2 linked regions of the Homo sapiens genome follow. The protein of the gene in region 1 purifies or fractionates together with the protein of each later gene. This does not show direct contact. Each region holds a gene or a part of one and is shown on either strand. Other genes may lie near its edges.

Region 1 (3,982 bases):
CTTTATGGTTAATGTGAATCCATTTCCTGGTTCATGGACTCGGAAGAAGATCATGGCCACATTCTGGGAAGATCTGATGCTCCTCCTGCTAAGACCACTCTCACAGAAATCTATGTACCGCTCAGCTGAGGGGAGAGGATGATCCTGGGAACTGGGGAACTTCTCCCCCTTGAGAATCCAACCATCAAATACCTTTGAAAAAAATACAGACATAGATGCTATCATTTCCATCAACTCCTGAAGTCTGAAATGAGTTGAAAAGGGGGGGAAAGTCATCCAGCAATGGGCCTTCAGTCATAAGTGAGAATCGACAGTCCACACTCTGCCTGCTCGCCTTTTCATTTGTATATATTGGATGGTGAGGGTTGTTTGCAAGTAATAGTATTAATTAATTTTTTATAAGCCTTAAAGCTTCCAAAGTAAGTAAACTTCCTTATACTTTATCATTTCAACCACTTTGGTAAATAAAACAACGTACAATGTACATTTTTACCTTGGTCATATTTTCTACCTCTCACCTTCAGAAGAATTCCACAAAAGCATAATTTAGGTTTCGTGCAGCTTCTCTCTTTCCTCTAGTCATTGAAATGTGAACAAAATATCTTGAAAATAGATAGCAAAAGAAAAAACTGGAGCAGCAACTTTACCTGCTAATGACTATATACACCCATTTTTCTCATTTTTTAAAAATATCATCACATATTACTTTAAAATGTCAAGAACTGCTTCAACAGCCAGGCAATGATGGCTGGTATGCTACCTGGAACATTTTTCCTTCACTTGTTAAAGTTTGCAGTTGAACAAAGGGTCAGAGTCTATTGACTTGACCCTCAAAATCACCACAGGTCTCCAGTTTAACGAGTCCAATCTAGTCCACATTAGCAAAATTACCAACAACCCAGCTACAAATTATTTCTAACGCATGTGACAGGTTCCAAAATAATCCTACTTTGGAGATGTTAATCATGATTATTTTAATTGGACAGTAGAGCTCCATCAGCCATCCCATGCTGCCCTGTTATACTTATGGAGTCTGACGACTGGAATCGAGGAGGCAGTGAGCTTAGGGGTCTTGTCCTGCCCTCCCACCTATCTCAATCTAGATGCCCCCTCGGCAGCCAGTCCCCTACTGCTCCAAAATCGGGTCACCCGCGCACTGAAGACAGCCTCTGTGCTCTCGGAACGGCTCTGCCGAGCGTGGACCAGCAGGAGCGAGGCGGGCTCAGATGTGAGACGTGTGGGGCGGGCCTTCTAACCAAGACGGCCCGCTTGGTGGACCCCAGCACTCGAGCTTGTTGGGTTTTAATCATTTTTCCTCGGCCCTGGATTGCGTCAGAGTTCCGCGCTGCGAGTTCAAGTCTTTAGAAGTTCCTAGGGCCTCGAAAGCGCCCAGAAGGGAATTTAAACCATGGCAGCGTCCAGAGGCACCGGCCCCAGCCCCACTGGATGTGTGTGGGTCGAGGTCTTCGGGTAAGGGCGAGATTCTCGCCGTGTGGGGGTCCTCGAACGCGCCTCTCCGACTCGGGCACCAGCGAAGTGTCTAAGAAGTGCCACTGGCTACCTACGCTCAGCAGCCCCACGCTGGGTGCAGCGCCCCAGCCCTTTCCAACCCTCCCGTGCCGCCCTCCGGCTAGGTTGGCTGGCCGTGGGCGCCTCACCTTCAGGAAGTCGCCGCCCTGACAGTCGATGGAGACCTGGTCGTAGTGGATGGTAATGAACTCCTCGGGCTCGCTGATGAAGAAGGCTGCGCAGTGCAGCTGCGGCCGGTCGGCGGTGAAGGTGAACTGGCCCTGGAGGCTCAGCATGTCCAGGCACCCTGGGGGAGGAGGGCATGGGGCAATAAGTCCCGGGCTGCAGCCGCCGCAGCGCCGTCCTCGGGCGGCCGCTCTCCGCGCGCCCCATTCCCGGGCTCTGTAGTGCCCAGCGCCCCGACTTCCAGCCTAGGCTGCGCTGGGTTCCTGCGCCCCGGGCGCGCCACCCTCTCCCGCTCCTGGCGCGCCTCCGCGGACCGATCCTTAGCTAAGGGGACCGCGCCCCTGGCGGTTCCGGCCAGCCCCTTCCCCGAGATGTCCGCGAGCCCTCTGCCCCCCGCACAGAGTCCCACCTTCCCCGCGTCCCGGGCGCCCGCGAGCCGGGCAGCCTCGACTCACGCAGAGCGCGGCGGTACGGCTGCTCCCCAGCCAGCTCCCGCTTCAGGTTGGCGCTGAAGAGCAGGAAAGGATCGTAGTCCGCCGCTTCCCTCAGCTGGCAAGAAACATAGGTCAGTCCGGAAAAGTTCAAGGGCTGGGGATAAAAAAGGGGACCAGGAGCGGGGCACCCTCCCTGCCACTCAGCATAGCGAATAAAGAGAGAGGGGTAATGTTTTCCCGTGTCCGGAGAAGACGGGAAGGTCTTAGACCCTCTCCATCAGGCCAGGGTATCCCCAGCGGCCAGAGGAAGGCAGGCAGGCAGTCTGGGATGCTCAGAGGCAAGGAGGGAGAACAGGATAGGGGAAACCAGGGGCAAGACAGCATCCAGCAGAGAGGGAAGAAACAGCGAACCCCAAAAGGCTGCGAGCAGAGGCAGCCTGCCTGCCGCCTAGGGCTAACACGCAAGGAAGGTGAGATGGGTCAGTCCAGGGGTGGCTCACCTCTAGGTACCGGCTTTCCCCTCTTAGAGCCGTCAGGAAGATGAGAATGAAGTGACACTGAAGTTTGAAGTTGGGCGACATGCTGGCCTTGCCTCTGCAGCTGCTGTGCTCTGCTCCGGAGGTCCTGGGCTTTCCTTCCTACACCCTCGCGCAGACTGAGAGCTAGAAGCTGGTAGGGTCCCTTTGCTGGGTCTCTTTTATAGAGCAGTGGGGAGCGGAGGCTCTCTGCCCCTTAACTGATCGGAGCTCAGTAACCATGGGTTACCCTGTCTCATTGACAGAGTACGTGGCGATGACGAGGGTCCAGCTCTCAGCCACAAATTTTCAGCGTGGCCCAGCATTATTCACCAAGAATGATTTCAGTCACTACAACTTAGTGCACTAAAGTGTTGGAGAATGAGGCGGAGACAAAGAATAAGGGAGTGCATTTTGTTGACCTGCTAAATGCTACATTATACTTTTCTGTGGGCATTCAGGGAATTTTCCATTTTGCAAATCAAAGTGACAAAGTTACATACACGCATAAAATACCCAAACATATAGAGCCTATATTATGCAGCCTCATCACATAACCTTGGATGAAACCATGCTAGAAATTGTCAAAGAATTTAGTATTCATGGAATTTCTCATGTCTCTCAGTAAGAAACTTGAGGCATTTTCAGCTTTAAAGAGGTGGAACAGAAGCAGAAGTCTGATTTTGCAGAAGATTGCAGTAATGCAATTATAAGCTTTCTTCCTGCCCCTTACTCTTTGCTTTATCCTGGTCCAGTTTCTTATAGGCATTTCTTTCATGGAAAACTAACTCTGGTGTCAGGGGACTTCTGGATTTTAGCTGAGCTCTGTCACTTGACCTGGATGTTTACATGATGTACACACTCCTAGACCAGGTAGCTGTAGCCATGACCTTCGCATCCATCTGAACCACTGAGAGATGAGATTAAGTCATTCCATTTCGTGCCTTCAAATACCTGGATTACTTTAACACTCTGGTAGAAGGAACTGCCAGGAAGCTTTATTGTAACTGCTCACCAGCAAATTTGCAGGGCTAAAAAGATGACTTAGGGATCCGGAAATAAGTATAAGCTTATCTCTGCTTATCAGGAGAGAAGAGAATTTCTTCTTTGTGTCCAAAACTGTGGGAAACATGAGGATGCTCCACTATTGGCTTTCCTACCCCTTTCCAGTCTCTGCACCAAGCATTGTTATTACAATTATTACAAATAGACCATAATACAGAGTTATAAAGGAAGGAATGGCTATATTTTCAGTTTTAAAATACTCGAAATTAAACAGTAATTATCCTGGCAGTGTCAGAACTTGATTATTTTCATGTCAGGACAATTCTGAGCTCT
Region 2 (3,500 bases), on another chromosome or scaffold:
GGCAGCGGAGTGGGCCACGGCATCCTGGAGCACCAGCAGCTGGCGGTCTGTCTTCTGGGTGAACAGCAGCTGCAAGAGATGGGGTGAAGTTTCGTGGGAGCAGGAGAGACCCCAGAGCAACTGCCAGTTTCCACGTGCTCTGGCCCATGCCTCTAGTGCCACCCATTTCTCAGAAAGAAAAACTAAGGAGAGATGGAATGTGGTCCTTCGTGTCCAGTCTCCCAATGTAGGGCTGTGGGCAGAGACTCCTGGCTCCCTGAGGAGGGGCTGGGGGCTGGACTCCTGGGTCTGAGGGAGGTGGGGCTGGGGCCTGGACTCCTGGGTCTGAGAGAGGAGGGGCTGGGGCCTGGACTCCTGAGTCTGAGGGAGGAGGGGCTGGGGCCTGGACTCCTGGGTCTGAGGGAGGAGGGGCTAGGGCCTGGACTCCTGCGTCTGAGGGAGGAGGGGCTGGGGACTGGACTTTCAAGTCTGAGGGAGGAGGGACTGAGAGGCATACAAAATCCCCATACCTTAGTGAGGGCCGGGTTGGGCTCAGAGAAGTCCCCGCCAGGTGTTCCCTGAAGGCAATTGAGCTCGAGCAGCCGGCTCCGTTCCTACCAGAAGATATGGACAGCTACGTGTCAAAGTCAGAATGGGCTGTCCCAGCTGCTTTCCCTAATGTCAGGAGACATCTGGGGTGCAGGGAGGTGGTGGGATGCCCCAGGGGGAAGTGAGGACGGTAGGGTAGGGCAGGTGACAGGTAGCTCACCTGTGACAGGGCCTGAAGGGCCTCCTCCTTCTTCCGGCTCAACCCCCGGCTCTCGGCTGCCATCTGCTCCCCCAGTGACTTGAGCTGCTCTTCCAGGACCCGGATCCGGTGCTGCAGAGCACCCCTCTGTCCCGGTTACTCATCTGTCACGGCCCCAGCCAGCTCTCCAGGCCACCCTCCCACAGAACCACATCTGCCTGGAGGGCTGGGGTTTACTCCAGCCACTCCCAGAGACCATGGGATCGGAGTGTCCAGGGCTGGGGACCCAGCGTTCAGCTCCCTGGACCCTCTTCCCTTTTGAGGGTCCAGAAGAGATCTGGGGAAGATGAAGAGAAAGGGATGGACAGAGAGAACAGTAACCAAGACAGGCCCCAAAAGACAGAGATGTAGACAAAGATTCAGGCAAAAGAAAAGATAGAAATAGAACAGAGACAAGTAGAGACAACCCGAGACGAAGGAAAAGCCAGCGGGAGAGGAAAAAGATCCAGAAGCAGGTGGGGAAAGGAGACCCAAGAAAAGCTCTTTTTTTTTTTTTTTTTGAGATGGAGTTTTGCTGTTGTTGCCCAGGCTGGAGTGCAATGGCTCAATCTCGGCTCACCGCCACCTCCGCCTCCCGGATTCAAGCAATTCTCTGCCTCAGCCTCCCGAGTAGCTGGGATTACAGGCATGCGTCACCACCCTCAGCTAATTTTGTATTTTTAGTAGAGATGGGCTTTCTCCATGTTGGTCAGGCTGGTCTCAAACTCCCAAACTCAGGTCATCTGCCTGCCTCGGCCTCCCAAAGTGCTGGGATTACAGGAGTGAGCCACCGAGCCCGGCCGAGCTTTCTAATCCAAAACTTTGGGAAACTCTGTGTTAAATATGGTCAAACATGCCCATTTTTTCCCAAGGGTCTCACAAGTCAGACCCTTGAATGTGAGGCTCCCAGGAAGGATCTGATGAAGCATCTTTTTGGAATAGAGGCAAAGAATGTGGTGGTGAATACCAAGTTTGTTCAAATCCTGGCTGTGGCGAGGCACGGTGGCTCATGTCTGTAATCCCAGCATCTTGAAAGGCCAAGGTGGGAGGATCGCTTGAATCCAAGAGTTTAAGACCAGGTGAAACCCTGTCTCTACTAAAAATACAAAAATTATCCAGGTGTAGGGGCTCGCACCTGTGGTCCCAGCTACTCGAGAGGCTGAGGTGGGAGGATCGCTTAAGCACAGGACGTGGAGGCTGCAGTGAGCTGTGAACGTGTCACTGCACTCCAGCCTGGGTGACAGAGTGAGACGCTATCTCAAAAAATAAAAATAAAAAAATCCTGGCTCTGTCCCTTACTAAGGAAACTTGGAAAAGATTACTTAAGCACCTTGACCTTCAGCTTCTTTATTTATAACGTGAAAAAAAAAAAACGTAATAGAACTTGCCTCATAAGTTTGTTGTAAGGATTCAGTGAGGAAATGCTCATGAAATATTCAGGACCATATCTGGCACATAGTAAATGTTTCATTAGTATCAGCTCTTGTTGTTACTATTCAGAAGAACATGACAGGCAGGAAACAAGGACAGAGAAAAAGGCAGGCACAGAGCAGGGGAGACAGAGAGGAGCAGCAAGGGGGGCAGCGCTGGTCAGGCATGACTCACTCTGTGCTGCGCCATGCTGGCCTGGAGTTCCTGGACCTTGGGGTCTGGCACCTGGGGCCCAGGGCTGTCCCGATCCTCCTCCTCCTGCCGGCTCTCCCGCTCCAGTTGCTGGAACTCCAGGTCCTCATAGGCACGTTGGGCCACATCCAGTTGTTCCCTCATCTATAGGTCGGAACACAAAAAGGGTGGAGGCCTGAATCCCTAAGACCCCAGGGAGTAGTGGGCTGGGGCTGGGACTCCTGGTCAGAGGAAGAAGGTGACTGAGGACTTGGATTCCTGGGTCCTGGGGAGGAGGGGGCTAAGAATCAGAGGGCCAGCTGGGCACAGTGGCTCACGCCTGTAATCCCAGCACTTTGGGAGGCCGAGGCAGGTGGATCACCTGTCAGGAGTTCGAAACCAGCCTAGCCAAAATAGTGAAACCCCGTCTCTACTAAAATGCCAAAAATTAGCTGGGTGTGGTGGTGCGCACCTGTAGTCCCAGCTACACGGGAGGCTGAGATGGGAGAATCGCTTGAACCTGGGAGGCGGAGGTTGCAGTGAGCCGAGATCGCACCACTGCACTCCAGCCTGGGCAACGAGGCGAGACTCTGTCTCAAAAAAAACAAAAAAGAAAGAACCAGATGCCATTACCTCCTGCACACCCTGCAGAAGCCGCTCGCGTTGGTCCTCTGGCTGTGAGTCGAGCTGTCCCTGGGCCTTGCGGAGTCTCTGGCGAAGACCCTCTAGGCGATCCCGTTCCTGGCTCAGCCGCCTCTGTTCCTGAAAGAACAACAAGGTTCTCACCCTCAGCTTAAGCATAGCGGGAGAAGCAGCAGCCAGCCATATCTCAGAGCCTGCCTGGGGTGTCGGCTGTACAAAGGCAGGGACTTCATCTATGTGATTCACTCCTGTGCAGGCCTGCCTCACAGTCAGCACCAAGATTTTAAAGAAATGAATGAGGCCAGGTGTGGTGGCCCACACCTGTAATCCTAGCACTGTGGGAGGCCAAAGTGGGAAGATCTCTTGAGCCCAGGTGTTTGAGACTAGCCTGGGCAACATAGGGGGAGCCCATCTCTACAAAAAAACAAAAAAATTAGTGGAGTGTGTTAGTGCACGCCTGTAGTTCCAGCTACTCGGGAGGCTGAGGTGG

The links. Proteins that work in one complex are often made in the same cells at the same time.
Region 2: the proteins of CRHBP (region 1) and PHLDB3 purify together in Homo sapiens (affinity purification with mass spectrometry; 4 studies listed by BioGRID and IntAct, with this or other methods). This does not show direct contact.

The regions. Positions count from the first base shown.
Region 1 is NC_000005.10:76,951,863-76,955,844, reverse strand, and holds the start of CRHBP (corticotropin-releasing factor-binding protein), read right to left. Parts: upstream 2,801-3,982; 5' UTR 2,711-2,800; coding exon 2,630-2,710; intron 2,245-2,629; coding exon 2,151-2,244; exon of another isoform or gene 2,105-2,150; intron 1,817-2,104; coding exon 1,659-1,816; intron 193-1,658; coding exon 1-192. UniProt on the Homo sapiens protein: Binds CRF and inactivates it. May prevent inappropriate pituitary-adrenal stimulation in pregnancy.
Region 2 is NC_000019.10:43,494,747-43,498,246, forward strand, and holds part of PHLDB3 (pleckstrin homology-like domain family B member 3), read right to left. Parts: intron 3,131-3,500; coding exon 3,002-3,130; intron 2,534-3,001; coding exon 2,372-2,533; intron 875-2,371; coding exon 749-874; intron 594-748; coding exon 510-593; intron 70-509; coding exon 1-69.